Linked DNA regions of Homo sapiens. The protein of the gene in region 1 interacts with the protein of each later gene in a pairwise test. Each region holds a gene or a part of one and is shown in the gene's direction. Other genes may lie near its edges.

Region 1 (3,500 bases):
CAGACTTTTTCAGAATTCCAAGACCAAGGTTAATAGAGGATTCTTCCAACAGATCTCAGGCAGTAAAGCATATTAAATTATATATCTAAAATTTCTACATATACATATGTAAACTAGCAACTTTATATTCCTTGTATGTTTGTTAGGTTTCTCTAGAATCAATTGTTTTTCAACATAAATATACCAACAAGCTCAAGGTAGATATTGCAACTGCAATTTTTTTCATAAAGATGGTTGCTTTTTTGATATGTCTATGTTCTGTTGTTATAGTTTAAAATTTGTCTTTTAAAGTGAATCTATTCATAGGGAAACAAAATAGGAAAAGTTAGATGAAATGATGAATGTTAACAGATGCTATAAGGATCCTATGTTATTTACCAATCTTACAGTAGTTACTCATTGACTATAAGAAGGTTTTTTTCTATGCAGTGAATTCCCAGGTCATTTTGTGCATTTTGTTATTCCAAGTAAAGCTAACAAAAATAATAATAATTATAATTTTGGGGGGGTAAATGATCATGAAATTCTTATCACTTATGCAATAATGAGAACTTGTATTTGGAAAGCACTTTGACTTAATACTTATGTAACCATTTAAGCTGTTTGCAGTAAGCTTTTTTTCTTAAATGATTTTGTTATTAGAACCAAAGTAAAACTTAAAGTGATGAATAGAAGCAAGTTCCCTGCAGTTTTAAAATGTATCCTTACTGAAGAAATAGTTGAAAAGTAAGATTCTTTGGAATTTAAGGTATTATAGGTTATATAATGTCTTGATTGCTATTTTTGTATCTTTCTACTATATTTACTGACGTTTTGAAATTCTCTGGCAAAGTAATTTAGAGCTTAATGAATCCTCTTCTGTCTATATAGAGAGGTACAAATCCTACAGCCTTTTTTCCTGATACTCATCTTTCACCCCTGGAGCAGGATACTAATTATCAAATAAACCTGACAAGCTGATCTCTTATTCTAAGAGAAATGAACACATTTATGCTTTAATCCTCAATTTTTAAGGACAAACTACCATCCTTTGTACACCCTTTCTGACTACATTGATAGCCTTCACTTTTTGTGTATGTGTTCCTTGTGAATCACTTCTTTCTCCAATTAAACCATGCCTTTAGATAATGAGTTAGAATATATTTGGAAAACATTTAAACTTGAAAATCATTCAATATGCATCAATTTCCAAGCCCACCATATTATTATTATTTATTTTCTTTTTTTTTTGAGATGGAGTCTTGCTCTGTCACCAGGCTGGAGTGCAGTGGTGTGATCCTGGCTGGGCAGAAGGGATAATGGGGAATTACTGTTTAATGGTACAGAGTTTCCATTTGGGAATATGGAAAGTTCTGGAGATGGATGGTGGTGATGGTTGTATAACAAAATGAATGTACTTAATGCCACTGAATTGTACACTTAAAAGTTGTCAAAAGGGTAAATTTTATGTCATATATATTTTGCCATAATAAAAATGTTAAAGCAAGCTTATGAGATAACTGAAACAAAGTTAGGAAGGAGAACTAATAACATATTGGACAATGTTATTACATTTTTAGAAAGGCTTCATCCTAACTATAAACTGAAACAAATGGGTGGAACTTAATAGTGATAAATGTTAAGTTTTGCATTTAGGTTCAACGATGCATAAGGATAAAGAATGACCTGGAGGTGGTAGATGATTGCATCTCAGTTATGCCAATTTATCACATCTGCTAAAACAGAAAGCTTTTTCAAATTTAGATTCTATTAGAGGAGGCCTGGTATCCAATTCACACGTAGTTTGCCCAGTCAGACCACATCCAAGACCATCATCATCTGAAGTCCCTAAACTTGCATGTATCTGGAAGAGAGCTGCTAGTTAACTGTAGAGAGGAGATATTAGATTAGGTAGCTATTGTCTTATAACAAACAATTGAAGGACCTGGAGATGTCAGCCTAGAAAAGCTAAGAACTATAAGGACATGATGGCCTTGAAATGTCCCTGGAAATGTGAAAGGACTACTAAGTGGAAGGGGGAGTAGACTTATTCTGGATTGATTCTGATGTTGGGACTAGGACCAATGGGGTGGTAAAGAGAGGTAGGGGAGACTTCTATTTTATGGAAGAAAGACATCCTCAGTGATTGGAAGATTATCACAATGGAAAGGCCTTTTAAAGTGGCTATTCTACCATAAGATAGCTTTAGTCAGATAGATATAAAAGTAGATACAATCAGCAGAAGCTTTAGGTAGGAGCTTGCACTAAATAATCTTTAAGGTTCTATTCTAATTCTGAGATTCTGTGATGCACCTGTTTTGTTGAAATGATTTGATTTAGTTCTGATGCAAGAGAACTAGACAATGGGGGAATTAACAATAAGCTAAGTTATGTCACCAAGTTCTTAAGTAACCCTAGGAGGAAGAGGTGAAAGCAGCTGGCCTGCCAATCCATTCACTTCCTTGGGGGACAGGAGGGGAGAAAAAGAAGGCACGTGGCCCAGTCTAATCTCCTTGTCAACAGGACTTAGGATAAATTGAGTACTGATGTTTGTTAGGAAGAAGAAACATTAACTCTGAAATGCCCTTAGCAGTGTGTCCCTGGGTAAGGATTACCTATAGTAAAGAGAACCCAGTATCTATAAGGCACAGCTCATTGGAGAAGGTCATGTAGGCACACAGCAAGGAAATAAATAACTGGGTTGCCAGTGGCCCTTGATGTCCCAGACCTCTCTCTGCTTCATTTGAATTATTTGATGGTCTCTATCTTTGTAACATTTAGTAGAGCTTAATGCTAGGTAGGAACACTGTTTCACATGAGTCTGATTTGGCAGTCCAGTCCTGTGTGTTAGCTCAAACCTTCATCTCTGTCTTATAAGCAAATAATCAAAAACCTTGAATGATTACAATTAAGCAAATAATTATTAAACATAGTAATAGATTTTGTTTCCAAACCTCAATTCTAGGTTGATGGTACCCTGAAACGGTTTCCATTAATAGGTAATAGACTGACCCAGAGTCTCAAGCACAATTGAAATGTGCTTGAGACTCTGGGTCAGTCTATTACCTGTTAAAAAATGCCCCATCATTGCCACTATAGAACACGGTCACGTTTTTACACAGGATTCCAATTTGGGATGCCCAGAACTTATTTCCTACCAACATATAGTCGTAGTGTAGTGTAGTGCAGTGCAGTGCAGTGTAGTGTAGTATAGTAGGGAAAGGGTGCCCATTTCTGTCCAGGCCTTTGGTGGTAGAACAGTCAGTATTTAGTACCATACTAGCAGTAGTAGGTGCATAATTTAGTTCTCTTTTCCCCCCCACCTTATAAACCTCTGGTCTTAGCCACTCTTAGCTGGTAGAAAAATTTCCCATAGTAAGAAAATCCAGACTTCCATAATCGCTTGCTAAAAGGAGAATTTTCTTTTAAGCTGCGGAAGGGATCAGAAAAATCCTGTTTTGTTTCCCCTCACAGTCATGCAGAGGCCATGGCAAATGTAGATTTTACTCTATGCAAAGCTC
Region 2 (3,500 bases), on another chromosome or scaffold:
ACATGCTCTTTCACTGGTCACTCCATTCTTTTTCCTTTAAAGACTTGTATCATATATGCTTGTCTTTTAATTCTTCCAGTCTCTCTTGTATTCATTCTAGTCAGTCTCTCTTCCCCTCTCCCAACCATACTGGAACTGCTCTTACTGAGTTCCCTGATGACCTGTTAAAAATACAGTGGTCATGGCTGGGTGCAGGGCTCATGGCTGTAATCCCAGCACTTTGGGAGGCCAGGATGGGTGGATCATGAGGTCAAGAGATGGAGACCATCCTGGCCAACATGGTGAAACCCCGTCTCTACTAAAAATACAAAAATTACCTGGGGGTGGTGGCATGTGCCTGTGGTCTCAGCTACTCGGGAGGCTGAGGCTGACGCAGGGGAGTCGCTTGAACCCGGGAGGTGGAGGTTGCAGTGAGCCAAGATCACGCCATTGCACTCCAGCCTGGCGACAGAGCGAGACTCCGTCTCAAAAAAAAGAAAAAAAATACAGTGGTCTCTCTTTGGTTTTCATCTTACTTATGAGCAGCATTTGACACAGATGATGGATCCTCCTCCTGGAGGCACTTTGTTTGGTTTCCAGGACACTACCCCCTCCTGGCTCACCTTATGTTCCTTGGTACTTCTTTTTCAGTCCCCACAGCCTATTCCTTCTTATCTTTGTGATCTCTAATTATTGGAATGCTAGGAGTCTGTCTTAGCCATCTTTATCTTTTTAGTTGTTCAGGACAAAAACTTTGGAATCTTCCTTGATTCCTTTTATTTACCCTTCCTCCACCTCCCCAGTCAGTCCATCAGCAAATCCTGTCAGCTCTCCCTTAAAATGTACTTGGAATCTATTTTTCATCACCTCCACTGCATCCATCTTAGACCAAGCCATTACTTCTTGGCCTCGTGATTAAAGTAGTTTCCTAACCAGTCTCCTAGCGTTGTGCTTTTGTCCCTCCTTCTTCTCCCCTCCCCCTCCAGATTTTTACTACAGTAGCCAGAATTCTCTTTCTAACAGGTGAGTCAGAACATGCAGTCTTACACTTAAAACACTCCAATGGATCTCCCTTTCAACGCTTTTTGGTTTTAGCATCTTAAAATGTCATTTAGCATCTTAAAATGTCCAAAATCAAACTGCTGATTTTGCCCCGAAATCTTTTGTGTCCGTGGTCTTCCCCATCTTAGTAAATGTAACTCCAGGAGTGCAGAGCTATTTGTCTTTTTTTTTTTTTTTTTTAAATCTGTACCACTTACAGCAGTACCTGGCACTTGGTAGGCACTCAGTATTTACTGAATAAATGAGAAGAAATGAGTCTTTCAAAGAGCAGGGTAAGAGAATAGTGTTCTAGGTAATATGAACCATAAGTGCAAAAGAACCTGACGGGGCCCAAGTTTGGCATGTTTAAGGAACTGAAAAGAAGGCCAGCCTGGGCATGGTGGCTCATGCCTCTAATCGTAGCACTTTGGGAGGCTAAGGCAGGAGAATTGCTTGAGCCCGGGAGTTTGAGACTAGCCTGGGCAACATAGCGAGACCCTATTTCTGCAAGAAATTAAAATATTAGATATGGTGGCTTGCAGTACTCAGGAGGCTGAGATGTAGGACCTGCAGTAGTGACCCCTGATTGCTCCACTGCACTCCAGCCTGGGCGAGAGCCAGACCCTGTGTCAAAAAAAAAAAATGGCCAGTCTGGGCAGGAGCTTAGGTACTGTATAAATTTCCTGTTGCTACTGCGGCAGTGAAGTCATATGTACTGTTGTAAAGTTCTGGTGGTCAGAAGTCCAGAATGAGGCTCAAGGGGTTAAACATCAAGGTGTGGGTAGGGGTTCTGGAGAATCAGTTTCCTTGCCTGATGCAGCTTCTAAACACCTGGGATCCCTTCCCCATCTTAATGCCATGAGCACAGCCTCTTCAAATCTCTGTCTCTCATCTCTACTTTGCTTGTTTCATCACCTTCTCTCACTGACCCTCCTTTGTTTCCCTTGTAAGGACCATTGTGATCACGTCATCTGACCAGCCTGGGTAATCCAGGATGATCTCTTGACCTCAAGATCCTTAACTTAATCTCATCTGTGAAATTCTTTTTGCCAAGTAAATTTACATATTCACAGGTTCCAGAGATTAGAACCTAAACATTTTTGGGAGGGGTGAGGAGGTATTCAGCCTACCACAGTTAATGAAGAGTGAGTGGCCTGAGATAAGGTCTTAGAGATTGGCAGGGACCAGATCATGATAGGTCATGATAGGGAGTCTGTTTTTCAGTCATAGTGCTGAGAGGTTTCAGTAGGGGAATGATAGGATTTGATGTGAAAAAGTCTCCCTGGCCGCTGGATGGCGATTAGACTGTTGGGATCGAGAGCAGAAGGCCTCAGCTTTTTATTCATAACATCATACGGTGGATCTCAATCTTGCTGTACGTTATGATCACACCTCAAAGCAATTATATCTGAACCACTGAGGGCTGGACCCAAGTATCAGCCTTTTTTTGTTTGTTTGTTTGTTTTTTAAGAAAAAGCATTCTAATTGTAGCCAGGGTTGAGAACCACTAGTCTCATAGATCTGAATCCATTTTACCTTTTCAGCCTTAGCTCAGTAGGAGCTTCTCGCATCCATCACTTACTGCATGAGCTACTTGACCATTTCTTAGACAAACTTCCTGTATTCCCACCTGTGCCTTTCAAAATATACCTAGTCTAGGGAGGCCTACGCGGACTGTCAGGGCCCAGCTGACAAACTCTCCTCCAGAAAGCTTCTCCAGTGCCCTGTAGTAGGAATGATTTGCTTCCTTCCCTGGCTCCCATTTGCACTTAGATTTCTCAGCCCTGATCACAGTCAGCTGTATATTATCGTCTCCTTTGCTTATTTACTCATGCCTTCAACAAATACTGTACCACTTGGCTGAATGCTCTGCTAGACACTAGGATTTACTACAATGCAAAGACAGTCTTGGTTGGGCGTGGTGGCTCACACCTATAATCCCAGCACTATGGGAGGGTGAGGTGGGCGGATCCCTTGAGGTCAGGAGTTTGAAACCAGCCTGGCCAACGTGGTGAGACTCTGTCTCTACTAAAAATACAAAAATTAGCCAGGCTAATTAGCCGAGACACACTCCTGTAATCCCAGTTACTCAGGAGGCTGAGGCACTAGAATCTAGCTTGAACCCAGGAGGTGGAGGTTGCAGTAAGCTGAGACCATACCACTGTACTCCAGCCTGGGCGACAGAGCAAGACTCTGTCTCAAAAAAAAAAAAAAAAACCTTGTCTTCTAGGTCCTCCAGCAGCTTAATCTATATGGAGGTAGGAGCGGGTAGATGTGCAATAAGAATACTCTGAGATGATTGTTCAAATGGAGATTCGTCCAAGTGCTGTGGGAACATGGGGATTTCAGAGACAGGTTTTCAGCTATTTCAGTATTTGAGCTAAAAAACTTGAAGGATGATTTGGTATTTGGTGGTGAGCAGGGCATGAGGAAGGGAAGAGTTTTCTGAGACAACATGTGAAAGGCAGGAGATGGGAGAG
Region 3 (3,500 bases), on another chromosome or scaffold:
TTTGCATGCAGGGTTGGTATATTTTGTAAAAACTTAAATTCATCTTAAGAAATGCAAATGCTAAGGTTCACCCTCAGAATCTGATTAAGGAGGTCTGATTATATATGAAATACATACTAGAAAGTATGTATACTTTCTTTTTTTTTTTTTTTGAGACACAGTCTCACTCTGTTGCCCAGGCTGGAGTGCAGTGGCACAATCTCAGCTCACTGCAACCTCTGCCTCCCGGGTTCAAGTGATCCTCCTGCCTCAGCCTCCCGAGTAGCTGGGATTACAGGCGCCCGCCACCATGCCCAAATAATTTTTGTATTTCTAGTAGAAATGAGGTTTCACCATGTTGGCCAGGTGAACTCCTGACCTCAAGTGATCCGCTCACCTTAGCCTCCCAAAGTACTGGGATTACAGGCATGAGCCACCGCGCCCAGCTGAAAGTATATATACTTTCTAGTTTGTGATATATTCTAAAGTATATCTAAAGGTTGGTATTTTGGCATTTTGAGGTCCCAGAACTGAAAACATAAATAGTTTTTTTTTTCATATGAATGTAGGTCCTATGAATCACTTTTATTACCGCAGTGTGGTGCATAATCAAACAAGGAGGACTTAGTTGTCTTAAAAAATTATTTTTGCTTTCATGTTCAGATTGGTATCCAGTTGAAAGTATTTTTCAACTTCAAAAATGGGAAGTCTGGGCAACAAATGAGATATTTGTGGGTTGTAATACAGTATAAAATTGTGATTCCATCTTTTAATCTTACAAATAACAATTGTTCTATAGATATGTGAGTCTTTTTAAAAAAAAATTTTTAGCATCACTTCTCAAAAATGTGAGCATACCACATTTTGTTTTTATTTTTCTTTTGCTCTATGATAAATTTCCACATTGAAAGACAACTCTTAAGAAATAGGAGCTCATAGTTTCTCTGTGTGATGGAATATAAGTTAAATCCTGTTTTTATCTTTCTGTCTTAAGTTTTTAATTTTATTTGGGGGAAATAAGACTGTTAGGAATTAAGTGTTAGCATCACTAACAATCTAGGGTTAAAGCTATAGCTAGAAACAGCCCAGTTTTTAACTGGAAACTAGTGGTAGAAAAGTTCTTTGCTATTACTTGCCAGTTTCCAAAAACTGTCTTGATACATGCATAAAAACAGCATATTTTAGAAACTCTTATAACCGGTGATTATCATTTATCTGTAGGTTATCCTTGAGAACTCAGCCTGAAAGATAGATAACCAGAGAGATTGGTTATAAGGAAATTATATAGAAAATAAGTGGTAATTTTCTGCTCAGTAATTCAATCATACAGCTATCTTTTGAATGCCCATTTACAAGTAGATTTTCTGCTAGACACAGTTACATTAAAAAAAAAAAACCCACAACCTCGTCATCAGATAATGCTTACCTAAATAAGAGAAATGAATAGAAGAACCTAGTTTTGTTGTCATGCTAATATGAAATATGGAAACACAGAAGAAATAAAAAAGCAATAAAGTTTTGTCTAAGACAGTATTCTAATTATGAAATAAATGTACAGAAACTGTTCATAACTGTTTGCATGTCTACTAATTTAGTGTAATACTCCTATTAGGAAACAGCAGTATTAACCCTGTCTATGAAAACATTAGGAAATTGAGATTTGAAAGAGTTTAGCCAAGATTACCCCAGATGTTGGGATGGACCTAGATGAGGCCTGTGGTTCTTGGCAGTCGAGGTGAGGTCAGTGCAGCTATGTTTTGTCAATTAGTCACCTCATGACTTGAAAACTGTAGGGCAGCAGTCCCCAAACTTTTCGGGACCAGGGACCACAGTCGGGGGGATGTATGTATACTTTCTAGTTTGTGATATATTCTAAAGGGGAGAAGGTTTGGGGATGACTCAAGTGCATTATATTTATTGTGCACTTTATTTCTATTATTATTGCATTGTAATATACAATGAAATAATTATACAACTCACCATAATGTAGAATCAGTGGGAGCCCTGAGCTTGTTTTCCTGCAAGTAGACAGTCCCATCTAGGAGTGGTGGGAGACAGTGACAGATCAGGCATTAAATTCTCAAAAGGAGCACACAACCTAGATCCCTCACATGCGCAGTTCACAATAGGGTTCGTGCTCCTATGAGAATCTAATGCCACCACTGATCTGACAGGAGGTGGAGCTCAGGTGGTAATGCTAACGATGGGGACTGACTGTAGAGATGAAGCTTCACTTGTTTGCCTGCTGCTCACTCCTGCTGTGTGGCCTGATTCCTAACAGGCCAGAGACTGGTACTGGTCTGTGGCCTTGGGGTTGGGCAAACCTACTGTAGGGGGCTGGAGTTGAGCTGATACTACTAGGCCTTTCCATAGTATAATTGGAGCAACCAGAAAGACACAGTCTTTTATTTATTTATTTATTATTATTTTTTTAATTTGAATCCGTAGATAAATTTCAGCAACTTTTCTGAAAGTTTGCAAGAAGCCAGGATTGAGAATGAAGGGACATTTTGGAGCCCTTGTGGTGGTACAGTTCTTTTTATATCTAGATCTTGACCTAGATCTACATATGGCCGTTATAGAGAGTGTTGCTTATTGCCTTGGTGTTTCTGGACAGTAAATGGAACATCAAGAGTTCTCTGTGTCCATGGAAGGGTGGACAGGATTCCCTTGTAACCTTATCCATTGTTGTAATTCATTTGTGATTGTCCTAGCAGCACCTGAAGGACTTTGCATTTTACAAAGATGTTTAGAGAAAATTGGAAGAGGAGAATCAATGATGAAGATGAAAGAAATGTGGAGATTGGGGGTAAAGGAAGAAGCTGATAGGCAGAGATTTTAAAAATGGTCATGCCTTGATCCTTGCAAGTCTTTGGTTCAGAAATGAGCTTCAGTTGGAGAGCAGGACACTGTTGTATGAGGTTGAAGACAGAGTCTAGGTTGGAAGGGGACAGGTAGGTAGGTCTGGTTGGATTAATGGAATTGGGGGCTCAGGGGACAAATGAGTTAAGATTGGCATTTGGGAGCCTTGCCAAGAGATAGAAAACATTTGCCAGAAATTTAAGCATACTGTCTTTTTTATAGTCAGAAAATTCAGTCACTCGTAAGTTGGGACTGTTCACTTGTCTGAATGTTTTAGATTTAAAGAAAAAATATAGCTCTTTGATAAACAACGTGGTGTGGAGCTGTGGTAAGCCTGCTCTTGCTCCTGACTCACCGCCGCTCGCTCTCACCAAAAAACAGGTTGGTCAGGAGATACAGAAAAACGCCCATGAAGCCAGAGGTGGCAATTCACTGAATTAGAATCACTCTAGGCCCAGCGCGGTGGCTCACACCTATACTCCCAGCACTTTGGGAGGCTGAGGCAGGCGGATCACCTGAGGTCAGGAGTTTGAGGCCAGCCTGGCCAACATGGTGAAACCCTGTCTCTACTAAAAATACAAAAATTAGCTGAGTATGTTGGCACGTGCCTGAAATCCCAGCTACTCGGGAGGCTGAGGCACAAGAATCACTTGGACCCA
Region 4 (3,500 bases), on another chromosome or scaffold:
AGCTGGGACTACAGATGCCTGCCACCACGCCCAGCTAATTTTTTGTGTTTTTAGTAGAGATGGGGTTTCACCGTGTTAGCCAGGATGGTCTCAATCTCCTGACGTCGTGATCTGCCCACCTCGGCCTCCCAAAGTGCTGGGATTACAGGTGCGAGCCACTGTGCCTGGCTGGTTTTTTGTTTTTTTTTTTTTAATTGAGATAGGATCTCACTCTGCCACCCAGGCTGGAGTGCAGTGTTGCAATCTCAGTTCACTGCAACCTCCGCCTCCCAGTTCAAGGGATTCTCCTGCCTCAGCCTCCTAAGTAGCTGGTATTACAGGTGTGCACCACCGTGTCCGGCTCATTTGTGTATTTTTAGTTGAGACAGGGTTTCGCCACATTGGCGAGGCTGATCTCAAACTCCTGATCTCAAGTGATCCGCCCACCTTGGCCTCCCAAAGTGCTGGGATTATGGGTGTGAGTCACCGTGCCCAGCCTTGTGCTCCCAGCTTTAAGTGTGGCACCAGAGGCACAGCAAGATGGTCTCGTTTGTCCTGATGACAGACGAGGGAGTGACAGAGGCAGCACCAGAGCCCAGTGGCATTTCAGAATATACCCATAGAGCTGCTGCACCCAAAACCTCCCGGGGGGGTCTTGGAACTGTAGGTTGAGAAGAGCTAAGCCACAATGCTTTCTTTGTCTCTGTCAGGAGTACGACCCCAGCAAAGCGACCTTTGTGAAGGTGGTGCCAACCCCCAACAATGGCTCCACGGAGCTCGTGGCCCTGCACCGCAATGAGGTAGGGACTGCCTGCTGGGCTCCTGGAGGAGGGGCTTGAGTAGGATTCCCAGGCGCTGACACCCCAAGGTCAGGGGCCTCTGTGGCAAACACACCTTCTACCGCAGGGCGAAGACGGGCTTGAGGTGCTGTCCTTCGAATTCCAGAAGATCAAGTATTCCTACGATGCCCTGGAGAAGAAGCAGTTTCTCCCCGTGGCCTTTCCTGTGGGAAACGCCTTCTCATACTATCAGAGCAACAGAGGCTTCCAGGAAGACTCAGAGATCCGAGCAGCTGAGAAGAAATTTGGGAGCAACAAGTGAGTCCTTGATTTGCCTGTAGCACCTTTGCCTTTCTGTCCTGCTCCCCTCCTGATTCAGGGTGCCTAGGAAGCGGGACAGAGGCATCTGCCCTTTTATTTATTTATTTACTATTATTTTATTTTTATTTTATTTTTTATTTTTGAGACTGAGTCTCGCTCTGTCACCCAGGCTGGAGTGCAGTGACGCGATCTCAGCTCACCCCAACCTCCGCCTCCCCGGTTCAAGTGATTCTCCTGCCTCAACCTGCCAAGCAGCTGGGAATACAGGCTCCCCCCACCACGCCTGGCTAATTTTTGTATTTTTAGTAGAGATGGGGGTTTCACCATGTTGGCCAGGCTGGTCTTGAACTCCTGACCTCAGGTGATCCTCCCATGTTGGCCTCCCAAAGTGCTGGGATTACAGGCGTGAGCCACTGCACCCGGCCAAATCTGCCCTTTTAGCCAAATGTCCCAGGTGACTGTGATGCCGCTTGAGCAACATGCTCTAAGTCCAGTCTCCCCTGAACTTGCCTGCTGGCAGGAACCCCAGAGGGTCTGCAGCTGGAAGCCCGTGCCCTGGGGTGTGAGACCTTGAGTGTAAGGTTCTTCACAGGAGTCTAGCCTGTGGCCCCTCCTCAGCAACAGCTTTATTTTAAATTCTTTTAAAATGTTTATTTGTGTAGAGATGGGGTCTCGCCGTGTTGCCCAGGCTTGTCTCAAACTCCTGGCCTCAAGCAGTCCTCCTAAATCAACATCCCAAAGTGCTGGGATTACAGGCATGAGTCACTGCACCCAACCTAAACATTTCAGTCCTCACTGTTTCGAGTCTACGCATCTCAGCGCTTCAGAATGGTGATGGAAGACCGTGACCATGTCTGCCCTTTTGTACTGAGTACAATGGCCAATGTGCGGTGCACACCCTCTCCCTTCATCTTCACCAAAACTGCAAATGCTGACACGTGGCTGGGAGCCGGAGAACTGGGCTCCAAACCCCATCATGGCCTTGTTACGATGGTCCTCAACCCAGAAACCCACAGAACACCTAGGGAGCTCTTTCCTGACTTAATCACTGTTCAGAGATTACAAATATGTTGACTACAACTATCAATCTAATACAAGGATTTATAAGAAACATTTAGCAACTTCCCCTACCCCAAGGTTGGCCAGTCACATTAATGGCCTGTGGCAACTACGTTCCCTTTCATGCTGTTCTTACTCAACGCAAAGGTACCCAGCAAGATACAAGGGAAGGGCTTATTGTTTGATAGCAGTGGGGTTGCTCTTTGGTTTCCTCTTCTCACATCCCATACATAAGACGTCCATGCAGTTAAAGGGCAGAGCGAGAATGACCCTCGTTGACATGACTGGTGCCCTGATCAGATTGGACTATGGCACAGAGTACTGCAGAACACACCCTTAGGCCCAAGTCCTTGCATTCTCGAGCCTTTTTTTTTTTTTTTTTTTTTTTTGGAGACAGGGTCTTACTCTGTTACCCAGGCTGGAGTGCAGTGGTGTGATCATGGCTCACTGTAGCCTTGAACTCCTGGGCTCAAGCATTCATCCTGCCTCAGCCTCCCAAATAGCTGGGACCACAGGCACACACCACCACCCCCAGCTAATTTTTAAATTTTTTGTAAATAGAAGGTCTTGCTGTGTTGCCCAGGCTAGTCTCTGACTCCTGGGCTCAAGCACTCCTCCTGCCTCGGCCTCCCAAAGTGCTTGGGATTACAGGCGTGAACCACCCTACTCGACCCATTCTGGGGCTTTAATTCAGGAATCATAGAAAATCTCAGCTTTGGTGGGGCTGGGTCTCAGTGTCTTCTGCTGTCTGTAGCTTCAGGGCCTCCATCTTTCAATCAGAGGTTCCTTCTCTACTTGCTGTGTCACTCGACCAGATGACGGGCTCTCGTCTGACACCAGCCCCAGGCTGCCAGGAAGAGCATATTGCAGATTAAGGAGCTTCATCTGTTTTATGCAGAGCCGAGGGCTGTGGGCGGGCAGCATGTCTACCCCAGGCTCAGCCAGGATGAGGGAGAGCCACTGCCAAATGGATCCTCCTATCTGGAAGCTCGCCAGGGCTCCCGACGCCCACATATGGCTCTTGGTTTCTTGAGAGCGGCCTGCCATGCTCAGGTTGGAGGGGTCAGGGTGGAGACTCCATACCCCAGAGGCCTTGCCCTGGGAACAGGATGGGGCCTGGTCTCTTGCAGGGCCGAGATGGTGGTGCCTGACTTCTCGGAGCTTTTCAAGGAGAGAGCCACAGCCCCCTTCTTTGTATTTCAGGTAAAGCAGCAGCTCTGGCCCATCTCCCCATTTCCTCCCTTGGGGCTTTCCTAACCGGATCAAGCCTGCCCACCACTTCTAAACCTGGAAGCCTCTCCCCACCCTCACATATCAGATCCGGTGGGTGGAAGGGGCTCATGGGAACAGGGCGGGTAGGGC
Region 5 (3,500 bases), about 110 Mb from region 1:
GACCGTGGCCCTGCGCCACCTTCCCCGCTCAAGGAGACCTCCTTTTCCATCGGGCTGCAAGTACTGTTTCCATTCCTCCTGGCAGGCTTTGGGACCGTGGCTGCTGGCATGGTGTTGGACATCGTGCAGGTAGGACCTGAGTAGGGCAGCTCTTGACTGTGAGCCCAGGGCCACCTTTGCCTGCTGGGAAACTTGGAACTTCCTCTCTACCTCCCTGTCAGAAGTGGCTGCTGCTTCCTAGAATACTGTTTTCCTTTGGATCATGTCCTCGGTTTCTTCTTGGTCTAGTTCCTTTCTACAGAAGCCTCAAGGAAACCGAGTAGCCCTGGGGAGGTGATCAGGGCAGTATTGCTAAATAGAAACAGAATTGGCTCCCGAGCTCAGGCTTGGGAGAGGAGAGATGGAACAGGGTCGTTGCTTGCCATCTCTCCCAAGCAGTCCTGCCGAGCCCAGCTCAGTAGGAGACATTTACAAGGGTCTCCTCTTTATGCCTTTTGTCCCCTGCATTTGGGGTTTCAAGGATACCCATAGTAGAAAGCTCAGTTTCAAGCCTCTCCTCCATCCCCCTACTGGGCAGGAATTTGTTCAGCTGCCAAGAGGGTCTCAAATTAAGTAGGAAGGCTCTTGAAGGCATTTTGTGTTGCTTATCTTCCTGTAACCTTGGCATAATCCCCTTGGGGGGTGGGGGTGGGCACTTGCTGTCTGATGCATGATTTGGAGATTTGGTGTAACAAGACCCAAATGTGCTAATTATCTGCTGTAAATGGGGACAAAATGTAACTAGGCCTGGGCAGAACTGTCTCTCCTCTTTGCTCCTCACCTGTCATTCTGAACCTGCCCTGGGCAAAGAGGGTTCTTTTTGAGGACATTGGGTAGAATGAAGGATGAGAGTCGGTGGGACATGGAATCTAAGAGCCAGAGATGTGCCATGTTAATTTATTGTGAGTCAGGACTTATGAAGAACCTCCAGGTCCAAGAGTTAAAGTTTTGTTTTTAGATAAAAGTTTTTTAGGCACAGTGTGGCACACCAAACTTTTTGAAGGTGCTGGGTTTACCTAAGTAATTCAGCAATGTGTATCAAATTCCTGCTGAATGCTGGCCTCTGTCCTAGGTACTCAGAGAAATATTAATACCAAGGCAGGAGGAGATCTGGCCTTTGCTTTTTGGGACCCCCAGTGTTCCCTGACTGTGATATCTCCCAGAAGGACACGAAGCTTAGCATCACCTTCCCTGTGCCAAGCCAACCCTACAGACCATAGTGATATAGAGTTCTGCTGGTAGGTCTCACCATGCCTGTGTCCTGGGAGACTGAAGGGGGTTGGTTCTTGATAGTGTGTGCACATGGAGAACTTTGACTTGAGCCCTTCAGGGGAACCCTGCACCTTTGGTTGCTCATGAGAGTGCTGTTTAAGTCATGCCAAAGTGCCTTGCACTGCCTCCCCTTTCCCCAAAACTGTTATCTTGAAGGTTGTTCCTACATGGAGGTTGGGAAGCCAGCCTGGAGCTTTGGGTTCCTCCTGCTAGGGGCTGCTCCTCCCCCTAGGGCCGGGACTGGGACAGTAGGAGGAGGAGAAAGAGACTAGGGTAACATTTTTCTTCACCTCTTCTATTCCTTTCCTGTGGCCTCAGTTCTCATTCTTGAAGTTGTTGCATTCTGGTTTGATACCTACAAAGGGTTGCAGAGCCAGGGTCCAGAGGTGAACTGAAGAGAGTTGTCTTATTTTCTGGATAATAGTAATGGTAGTGGGGAAGCATTTGGGGGGCTCTTCGGTAGGCCCATGAGGTAGGATCCATAATCATCTCCATTTTGTAGGTAGGGAACTTGTAGCTTAGAGGGATTAGGTAACTTGTCCCTGGTCATCTGACCCTAGAGCCCACACCACTAACCCCTGTGGCCTTCGCCATGGCCATGGTTCACCAGTTGGTTAAAAACTCGGAGAGGGGGCCGAGCTCAGTGGCTCATGCCTGTAATCCTAGCACTTTGGGAGGTCAAGACGGGCGGATCACCTGAGGTCAGGAGTTTGAGACCAGTCTGGCCAACACAGTGAAACCCCGTCTCTACTAAAAATACAAAAAATTAGCTGGGCATGGTGGCAGGCACCTGTAGTCCCAGCTACTTGGAAGCTGAGGCAAGAGAATCATTTGAGCCCGAGAAGTGGAGGCTGCAATGAGCCAAGATCGTGCCACTGCTCTCCAGCCTGGGTGACAGAGCGAGACTCCAACTCAAAAAAAAAAAAACTCTGGCTGGGCATGGTGGCTTATGCCTGTAATCCCAGCACTTTTGGAGGCTGAGGCAGGAGGATCGCTTGAAGCCAGGAGTTCAAGACCAGCCTGGGCAACAAAGTGAGACCTTGTCTCTACCAAAAAAAAAAAAAATAGTCAGGCATGGTGGCATTCTCGTATAATTCCAGCACTTTGAGAGGCTGAGATAGGAGTGATCACTTGAGCCCAGGAGTTTGAAGTCGCAATGAGCTATGATTGTACCACTGCACTCCAGCCTCAGCAACAGAGCCAAACGCTGTCTCAAAAAAAAAAAAAAAAAAAAAAAGACTCTACGAGGAGCCTATTTTCTTTGTCTTTCCTTGAAGAACTGGGTGGATTAGAATCTGGATTAATTAGCGTTATCTTCTGAAGTGAGCAAGAATAAAAGTTCTTAGATGGGGTAGGGAGGGACCCCCGCATACACACCACACCCCTACCCATCCCACACACTTAGATTCCAAAGTTTCTGATGTGTTGCCCCATCCCCACTCCAGGCCCATGAGCTGGAGACATTGAGAGGCCTGGGTAGGGAACCTTTGGAGCTGCTCTCAGTGTGGCACCTCAGCTCACCTCAGAGCTAGGGTCCACTTGGTGTGGATGACAATGACAGGTTTGTCCATGTCCTCCTCCCCCAGCCTTCCTGCTACAGCTGGGCTGGAGCAGGCCCTGCAGATGGCAACAGTGAGATGGCAGGAGGGGGTGAGTGCAGAGGGACCGAGACATGGGACCACAGGGAGATTGTTATTCCACATCCATGGGAGTAAAAGGGGGACTGACAATCTCAGATTCAGGAAGAGCGGGATGGTTTCTAAGGATTCACACCTATATTACCCCTTCATAAGCTAAGATGGACTTCAGTAAGAGAATCTGAAAGTGCCCCAAGACCATGGGGCCATCTGGAGAAGCTGGCTATGGAGTGTCCCCAGCATCTTGGAGCAACTGAGCAGGAGTCCATATTGGGCCTGGTTCAGATGTCTCCTTGGTCCAGGGCCCCCATCTTTCCTTGCTGCTGTAGAAAACTTGGTTTCTTTTTCACCAACGAGATGCAAAAAAAATAAAAATAAAAAGTTGAATTTTAATTTTAATTTAAAAGAAAAAGAAAACCCACTCTCTTCCTAGAAGGGTCATTTCTGCCTCCTCTTATCTGCCCTCCCGTAAATGTGCACAGCAGCATCTGCAGTGAAATAAGGGGCTGGTGCTGGCCCAAAGTAGGAAAAGGATAAATGGACCTCCATCTG
Region 6 (3,500 bases), on another chromosome or scaffold:
ACACTCAGCTTGGTTTTCATTATTATCCTTTTAGGATACAGATGAGTTTATTTTACCTACCGGAGCTAATAAAACCCGGGGCAGATTTGAGCTGGCCTTCTTTACGATTGGAGGATGTTGCATGACAGGTGAGTGTTACATACTTTTTTCTCAAGAGTGCTCAGTTCAAGTAGTTGAGGGTGCGTAAAATCAAAAGCAATTAGAATGTTGGTTTCAGGGTTTTTTTTTTAATATTTACATTTGTCTTTTTCTATTAAATAAAAATGAAAAAGAATCAGAAGTGTAGTTATGCAGATTTGAGTTTGTTTTTTTAATATAAAGCTGTCTTTATCTGGGTGAATTGTTATGATTTACCAGGGGCTGCGTTTGGTGCAATGAATGGTCTTCGGCTAGGATTGAAGGAAACCCAGAACATGGCCTGGTCCAAACCAAGAAATGTACAGTAAGTCTCTTGTAACCATCTGATGTAGTGATACTTGAATATTAAGCTCTGTTGTATTGGTTTGATGAGTACAACCTTGAGATTACAGATGGTTAGCATAGTTATGTGCTTTTTTGTCTTTGTTTTTTAATCTTAATCAAAATAAAAGCAACTAAGGAATCAGATTACTGACTCTAAGCTTTTAAAAAGGAGTGATTTTTTTAATCAGTGTCCCTCAGTCAGCTAGTGCTATGCCAGCCTGACTTCTCAGCTGCACCTGTTACATTCTCCAACCCTATGTGACTTGCTTTTCAAATTGTTGAGTTGCTAATGGGAATTTTGGATTGTTTGGGGGCATGCAGATCCATAGGAAATGGTAATGAAGAATAAGCAGCTCATGAGAGTGATGGCTCAAGCTGCCATCATTTAACTTGAAGTTCTTACTGTCTTGACTTTATGTTTCCGAAATGATGAGCCAGATACATTTTAAATAAAATTTTTAGAATTAGAGTTAATTCCAAAAGGATAAGACACAGTTTTCTGTTAGAACTTGAAGTTACAGAGAAGGGAAAGTACAGTTAAAAGGATCGGAAAGTATGTTTTCACCCAACTTAAGAAGTAAACATGGCCAGTCCCTCTTGATATTCCTTAAACAATATGTTTAGTTTTGCCCATTTTTATGCTTCATGTAAGTGGAATCATGAGTATGTATTCTTCGATGGCTACTGTTTTGTTTTAGGACACTTTAAACTCCATCTTCCTTTCATATTGTTCAGCCAGCAGATGGCACCAGATGTGCTAGAATTAGACCATGGGAAACTGGAAGGCCTGTTAAATTGTGTGGTTTTTTGAGAGACAGGGCCTTGCTGTGTTGCCTGAGCTGGAGTGCAATGGCGCCATCACAGCTCACTGTAGCCTTGACCTCCTGGGCTCAAGTGATCCTCCCACCTCAGCCTCCCGAGTAGCTGGGACTACAGGCACATGCCACCATGCCCAGTTAATTTTTTAATTTTTTGTAGAGACGGGGTCTCACTGTATTGCTCAGGCTGTTCTCAAACTCCTGAGCTCAGGTGATCCTCTTGCCTCAGCCTTCCAAACTGCTGGGATTACAGATGTGAGCCACTGCGCCTAGCCCTGTTAAGTTTTTTATATTCCTGTTACTGTGTGGATCTCTGTCCATGCTTTACCAGCCTAGATCCTTCAATATTTTTATTACTTGTCCCTCGCTTCAATAATATTTTTAAGTTTTTGTATTATGGGGAATTTTGAATATATAAAAGTAGACAAAATACATAGCATAGTGAACACATGAACCATAACGCATCCTCAACAACCATCAACCATGGCCAGTTCTATCCCATTTCCTTCTCCTCTCCCATCTTATTTTGAGACAAAAACCCCAATATCATATTAAATACAAATTTGGAAGTAGATCTCCTAGAAAAGACAACTTGCTTCCTTTCTTAAAACAAGTTATTAAAATGCTTGTTAAAAATGAAAAAATGATGGCTGAACTTAAAATATGTTAGTAAATATGTAACATAATTAGAAACAATATACTTCTGTTTGTAAACATTACTGATTTTTTAAAACAATCTTTTAGAAAATACAAATTTTTGTTTCTGTAGAACATTAATTGAGTCGTTTAATAATTAAACTGAATGAGTTCCTTCACTCTTTGTTACTGTATTTCCATAATTTCCAGCAGTAGTCAGCTGTCTGGACAGAACCATTCCTGGGATCATGTTACACTGCTGGGAGAAGAATGTCTTCTCTTCATCCAGTTGCGTCCATCACTGTTCTGGTGGTGTCTGGCACTGGTGCAAGGCAGAACTGTGCTTCCTTGAGAGTGTGCTGAGCATTCACCTTGGCTGCTTGGTTCTAGTCTAGGAGCAGACACAGGGTGCTTTCCCCATGTATTCTAGTTAGATGGCTGATTCCTTCTCTTTAATTCTACTTTATATTCTGTACTTTGATATTCTTTACTTTATATTCTGTACTTTGATATTCTTTACTTTGATTATCTTTAACATTCTAAGCATATGTTCCCCTCCCAAAAAGAACCTTTTAGAAGCTAGCTCGCCATAGTTAACAGTGGCATTTTTTACATAGATTAGTTTCTGTAAACCTCTGTAAGATACATTCCAGGCTGTCATTCAAAGCCTTATATATATTTAATGTGTATTCATTATATTATACATTTAATAATAAGAGTTTTCCTTATTATTATTATTAAGGACTTATATAAAAGTCCTTAAGACTTTTGCCTAAAGTTTTGAAAGTTTTAACCTAATTTTCACTTATGTAGAGTAAAAACCATCCTTATTGAAATCGGAGATATTAAGATGTATTTTAGAATTTAAAAAACTTTGCGCCCTGGGTCTAGACATGTTAAATAGCCATTATTGTTTTTAAAGGTTACTAGAGAAATAATGATTCTAAATACAGATTCTTTCTCTTTCTGCCCTGATAGGATTTTGAATATGGTGACTAGGCAAGGGGCACTTTGGGCTAATACTCTAGGTTCTCTGGGTAAGTAGAGATCTCATTTGATAATAAATTGTTAAAGAAAGAATGCACAAATATCATGAACAATTTGATCAACCCATATTCTGGTCCTAGGATATGAGACAATTATGTTTAAACCCATTCCAATGCATAATGTAGATACTACTTAGGGAAAGACCATGAACTAACTTATGAAATAATCTCAGGTGCTAATACCGTTCTGAATACCATTGCTGAATTTTTAAAATCTTTTGGACACTGCACACTCTCCTTTCCAAGCACAACACCCAATAAAATCATGTTTAAATGAAATCCAGGTAATTTAGGTCCAAAGTAAAGAGCTTTGTATGTTAGGCAAGGTTCAAGGTCCTGTAGTGATACATGATAAATTAATCCAGCCCTCTTGCTATGTTTTCTTAATAGCCGGTTCATTAGTCTGTTTACCTGAGTAGATTTCAGGCACCTAATTGCCACAATTGGAATAGGTTCCTTGTAGATAATGAAAACGTTTGCAGTTCTAGGCAAAAGGTAACTTAGTAGTGCTTAGTCAGAGCCTTATGCTTTCATACCA
Region 7 (3,500 bases), on another chromosome or scaffold:
ATCTGAGACAGAGTCTCACTCTGTTGTCCGGGCTGGAGTGCAATGGCAAGATCTCGGTGCCCTGAAACCTCCGCATCCTAAGTTCAAGCGATTCTCCTGCCTCAGCCTCCCAAGTAGCTGGGACTACAGGTGCCCACCACCACACCTGGCCAATTTTTGTATTTTTTTAGTAGAGACAGGGTTTTACCATGTTGGCCAGGCTGGTCTCGAACTCCTGACCTCAGATGATCCACCCGTCTTGGTCTCCCAAAGTGCTGGGATTAGAGGTGTGAGCCACCACCCGGCCGAGACATGCTTTAATGAGGAGAGATTTAATCTGTGGTTCCAGGCTGGGTGGGGTCCTTGGGCCTGTAATGGGTCTTCCTCATCCTCCTCCCCTCTCCCTTAAAAAGATGAGGTACACCCAGTTGCTGCAGTGTGACTGGAGACAGTGGGTGCAGGGAGGTGAATGCTGGAATATCCCATCCCCAGCCAGCTTAGACTTTGGATTTTGCCTCTAAGTCACAGGGTTCTAAGGAGGCGCCAAGATCCATGAGAGAATCCAGTGCTCACTTACATTAAGCTGGTGGACGTGGCACTTATCACAGCCCTTCTCATGTGAGCGCTAAGTGCCAGGCTGCCCTCTGTGCTGGCCCAGATCCTCTCACTTAATCCTCACACCAGCCCCATCTAGTATGTGGCAGGTGAGGGAACTGACTAGCACAGTTGGCTAGCACAGTCACACGGACCTCAGATCATCTGCTCTAGGATAGGATAGGAAGCTGGGACCAGAGAAAGCAAGTGGCTCACCCATGGTCACACAGTTAAGGACTGGCAGAGTTGGGTAAGAACCAGGTCCGTCACACTCAAAAACCCAGGCTCTTTTGTACCAGACTGCCTGGCTTTCTGTCCCCTCAAGGAATAGAGCTGCTTTGAATGTTTGTGGCTCAGAAATAACTCAGAAACTCCAACCTAAATGTCTTAACTTTGTTCTCCTTCAAATTTAAACGGGCGTATTAATGTGTAACGGGAGTTAGTGCCCCAAGCCAAGGTACACTCAAGACCTGTTGCCTCAGCCCAGCATGCAGAGGTGGTGGGGTTCAGAATAGGCCTCCAGGAAGGAGAATTGTGCCCTGTAGTTGGTTACGCAGAGGTCAAAAGCCAGAAGCACATGGCCAATCTCCTTTAAGCACTTTCATTTCAGCTGTTCCCCTCTCCTGAGCCATGGTGGGTCCCTGGCAATGCCCGGTCTTCAATCTAGTTTCATTTCTTACTAGCTGTGCAACCTCCATGTCTCATACCCTCTCTGAGCCTTAGTTTCCTTTTCTGTAAAATGGGAATAGCAATTCCTTTGTTGGATTTTTTTTTTTTTTTTTTCTGAGACAGGGTCTTGCTCACTCTGTTCCCCAAGCTGGAGTACAGTGATATGATCACAGCTCACTGCAACCTTGAAATCCTGGGCTCAAGTGATACCCCTGCCTCCGCCTCTGGAGTAGCTGGGACTATAGGCATGCACCCCCACAGCCATACCTGGCTTTTTTTTTTTTTTTTTTTTTTCTGAGTCAAAGTCTTGCTCTGTCGCCCAGGCTGGAGCGCAATGGCGTGATCTCGGCTCACTGCAACCACTGCCTCCTGGGTTCAAGCAATTCTCCTGACTCAGCCTCCCGAGTAGCTGGGATTATAGGTGCCTGCCACCATGCCTGGCCAATTTTTGTGTTTTTAGTAGAGATAGGGTTTCACCATATTGCCCAGGCTGGTCTCTTGGCCAGGCTGGTCTCGAACTCCTGATCTCGTGATCCGCCTGCCTCAGCCTCCCAAAGTGCTGGGATTACAGGCGTGAGCCACCGCGTCCAGCTGGCTAGTTTATTTATTTATTTATTTATTTTTATTTATTTTTTTGAGACAGAATTTCGCTGTGTTGCCCAGGCTGGAGTGCAGTGGCGAGATCTCAGCTCACTGCAAGCTCCACCTCCCGGGTTCACGCCATTCTCCTGCCTCAGCCTCCTGAGTAGCTGGAACTACAGGCGCCCGCCACCACGCCCGGCTAATTTTTTTGTATTTTTAATAGAGACGGGGTTTCACCTTGTTAGCCAGGATGGTCTTGATGTCCTGACCTTGTGATCCTCCCGCCTCGGCCTCCCAAAGTGCTGGGATTACAGGCGTGAGCCACCGCACCTGGCCCCAGCCAGCTAGTTTTTTAAAATAATTTTTTGTAGAGGTGGGTTTTGGGCTATGTTGCCCAGGCTGGTCTCAGACTCCTGGCTTTAAGCAATCCTCCAGCCTTAGCCTCCCAAAGTGCAGGGATTACAGGGGTTTGAGCCACCACACTGGGCCAGTTTGTTAGATCTTTATATAAGGATTCAATTAGGCTGCTTGTTTTGCCCAGTGGGGTAAAAGGTTTTTAGGCTGAGAAAGTGCATGATCGTCTTTTCCTCTTGTAAAAACCCCTCTGGCTGCTGTGTGAAGAGGATTGTAGCGAGGGGTGGCAGAAGGAGTCAGAGCCCAGCTGCGAAGTGAGGAGGGCCTTTCCAAAGGCAGTAGTGGACGGGACGGACAGAGGTGGGGGTCTTCTATGTGGCTGGCGGCCTGACCTGCTCACTCTGCTTTCAGCTGGTGATGGCCTCCCTGTACCACATCTATGTGGCCCTGGAGGAGGAGATTGAGCGCAACAAGGAGAGCCCAGTCTTCGCCCCTGTCTACTTCCCAGAAGAGCTGCACCGCAAGGCTGCCCTGGAGCAGGACCTGGCCTTCTGGTACGGGCCCCGCTGGCAGGAGGTCATCCCCTACACACCAGCCATGCAGCGCTATGTGAAGCGGCTCCACGAGGTGGGGCGCACAGAGCCCGAGCTGCTGGTGGCCCACGCCTACACCCGCTACCTGGGTGACCTGTCTGGGGGCCAGGTGCTCAAAAAGATTGCCCAGAAAGCCCTGGACCTGCCCAGCTCTGGCGAGGGCCTGGCCTTCTTCACCTTCCCCAACATTGCCAGTGCCACCAAGTTCAAGCAGCTCTACCGCTCCCGCATGAACTCCCTGGAGATGACTCCCGCAGTCAGGCAGAGGGTGATAGAAGAGGCCAAGACTGCGTTCCTGCTCAACATCCAGGTGAGGGTCGGGCAGCCTGGGGCAGCCTCTGCCTCCCCCCGTTGTTCCTCCAAGGGACCCTTCTCATTGTAGGGGAGGGTGCTATAGGTCATGGTTAACACAGGGAACCAGAGTTCCAGCACTGCCACTTACTAGCTGGGTGATCTTGGGCAAATGCCTTCATCTCTCTGTACCTCAGTTTCCCTATCTGTAAAATAGGGATAATAATGGTACCTATATCTTAGACTTATAAGGCTTGAGTGAATTTACAGCAGTAAAGTCCCCACAGCAGTGTCTGGCACAGAGGAAGCCCTCAAACATTCACTACTGTCATAATGGGACATGAGAATCAGTTGTAGCTCTCTGTGACAACAGTCTGTGGCAATGTATAAGTTGTGTGTGCACTAGTGTATAGCCAGGTTGGCACTCCCAGGGTTACA

Evidence for each region.
Region 2: the proteins of TLCD4 (region 1) and TVP23B interact in binary tests that used the Homo sapiens proteins (3 or more experiments, as listed by UniProt).
Region 3: the proteins of TLCD4 (region 1) and LNPEP interact in binary tests that used the Homo sapiens proteins (3 or more experiments, as listed by UniProt).
Region 4: the proteins of TLCD4 (region 1) and ATP13A1 interact in binary tests that used the Homo sapiens proteins (3 or more experiments, as listed by UniProt).
Region 5: the proteins of TLCD4 (region 1) and SLC41A1 interact in binary tests that used the Homo sapiens proteins (3 or more experiments, as listed by UniProt).
Region 6: the proteins of TLCD4 (region 1) and TIMM23 interact in binary tests that used the Homo sapiens proteins (3 or more experiments, as listed by UniProt).
Region 7: the proteins of TLCD4 (region 1) and HMOX1 interact in binary tests that used the Homo sapiens proteins (3 or more experiments, as listed by UniProt).

What each region holds. Positions count from the first base shown.
Region 1 is NC_000001.11:95,151,855-95,155,354, forward strand, and holds part of TLCD4 (TLC domain-containing protein 4), read left to right. Parts: intron 1-3,500.
Region 2 is NC_000017.11:18,784,183-18,787,682, forward strand, and holds part of TVP23B (Golgi apparatus membrane protein TVP23 homolog B), read left to right. Parts: intron 1-3,500.
Region 3 is NC_000005.10:96,939,080-96,942,579, forward strand, and holds part of LNPEP (leucyl-cystinyl aminopeptidase), read left to right. Parts: intron 1-3,500. UniProt on the Homo sapiens protein: Release of an N-terminal amino acid, cleaves before cysteine, leucine as well as other amino acids. Degrades peptide hormones such as oxytocin, vasopressin and angiotensin III, and plays a role in maintaining homeostasis during pregnancy.
Region 4 is NC_000019.10:19,657,177-19,660,676, reverse strand, and holds part of ATP13A1 (endoplasmic reticulum transmembrane helix translocase), read left to right. Parts: intron 1-689; coding exon 690-779; intron 780-885; coding exon 886-1,076; intron 1,077-3,268; coding exon 3,269-3,341; intron 3,342-3,500. UniProt on the Homo sapiens protein: Endoplasmic reticulum translocase required to remove mitochondrial transmembrane proteins mistargeted to the endoplasmic reticulum.
Region 5 is NC_000001.11:205,806,699-205,810,198, reverse strand, and holds part of SLC41A1 (solute carrier family 41 member 1), read left to right. Parts: coding exon 1-129; intron 130-3,500. UniProt on the Homo sapiens protein: Na(+)/Mg(2+) ion exchanger that acts as a predominant Mg(2+) efflux system at the plasma membrane.
Region 6 is NC_000010.11:45,982,489-45,985,988, forward strand, and holds part of TIMM23 (mitochondrial import inner membrane translocase subunit Tim23), read left to right. Parts: intron 1-34; coding exon 35-128; intron 129-357; coding exon 358-442; intron 443-2,119; exon of another isoform or gene 2,120-2,323; intron 2,324-2,894; coding exon 2,895-2,953; intron 2,954-3,500. UniProt on the Homo sapiens protein: Essential component of the TIM23 complex, a complex that mediates the translocation of transit peptide-containing proteins across the mitochondrial inner membrane.
Region 7 is NC_000022.11:35,384,096-35,387,595, forward strand, and holds part of HMOX1 (heme oxygenase 1), read left to right. Parts: intron 1-2,589; coding exon 2,590-3,081; intron 3,082-3,500.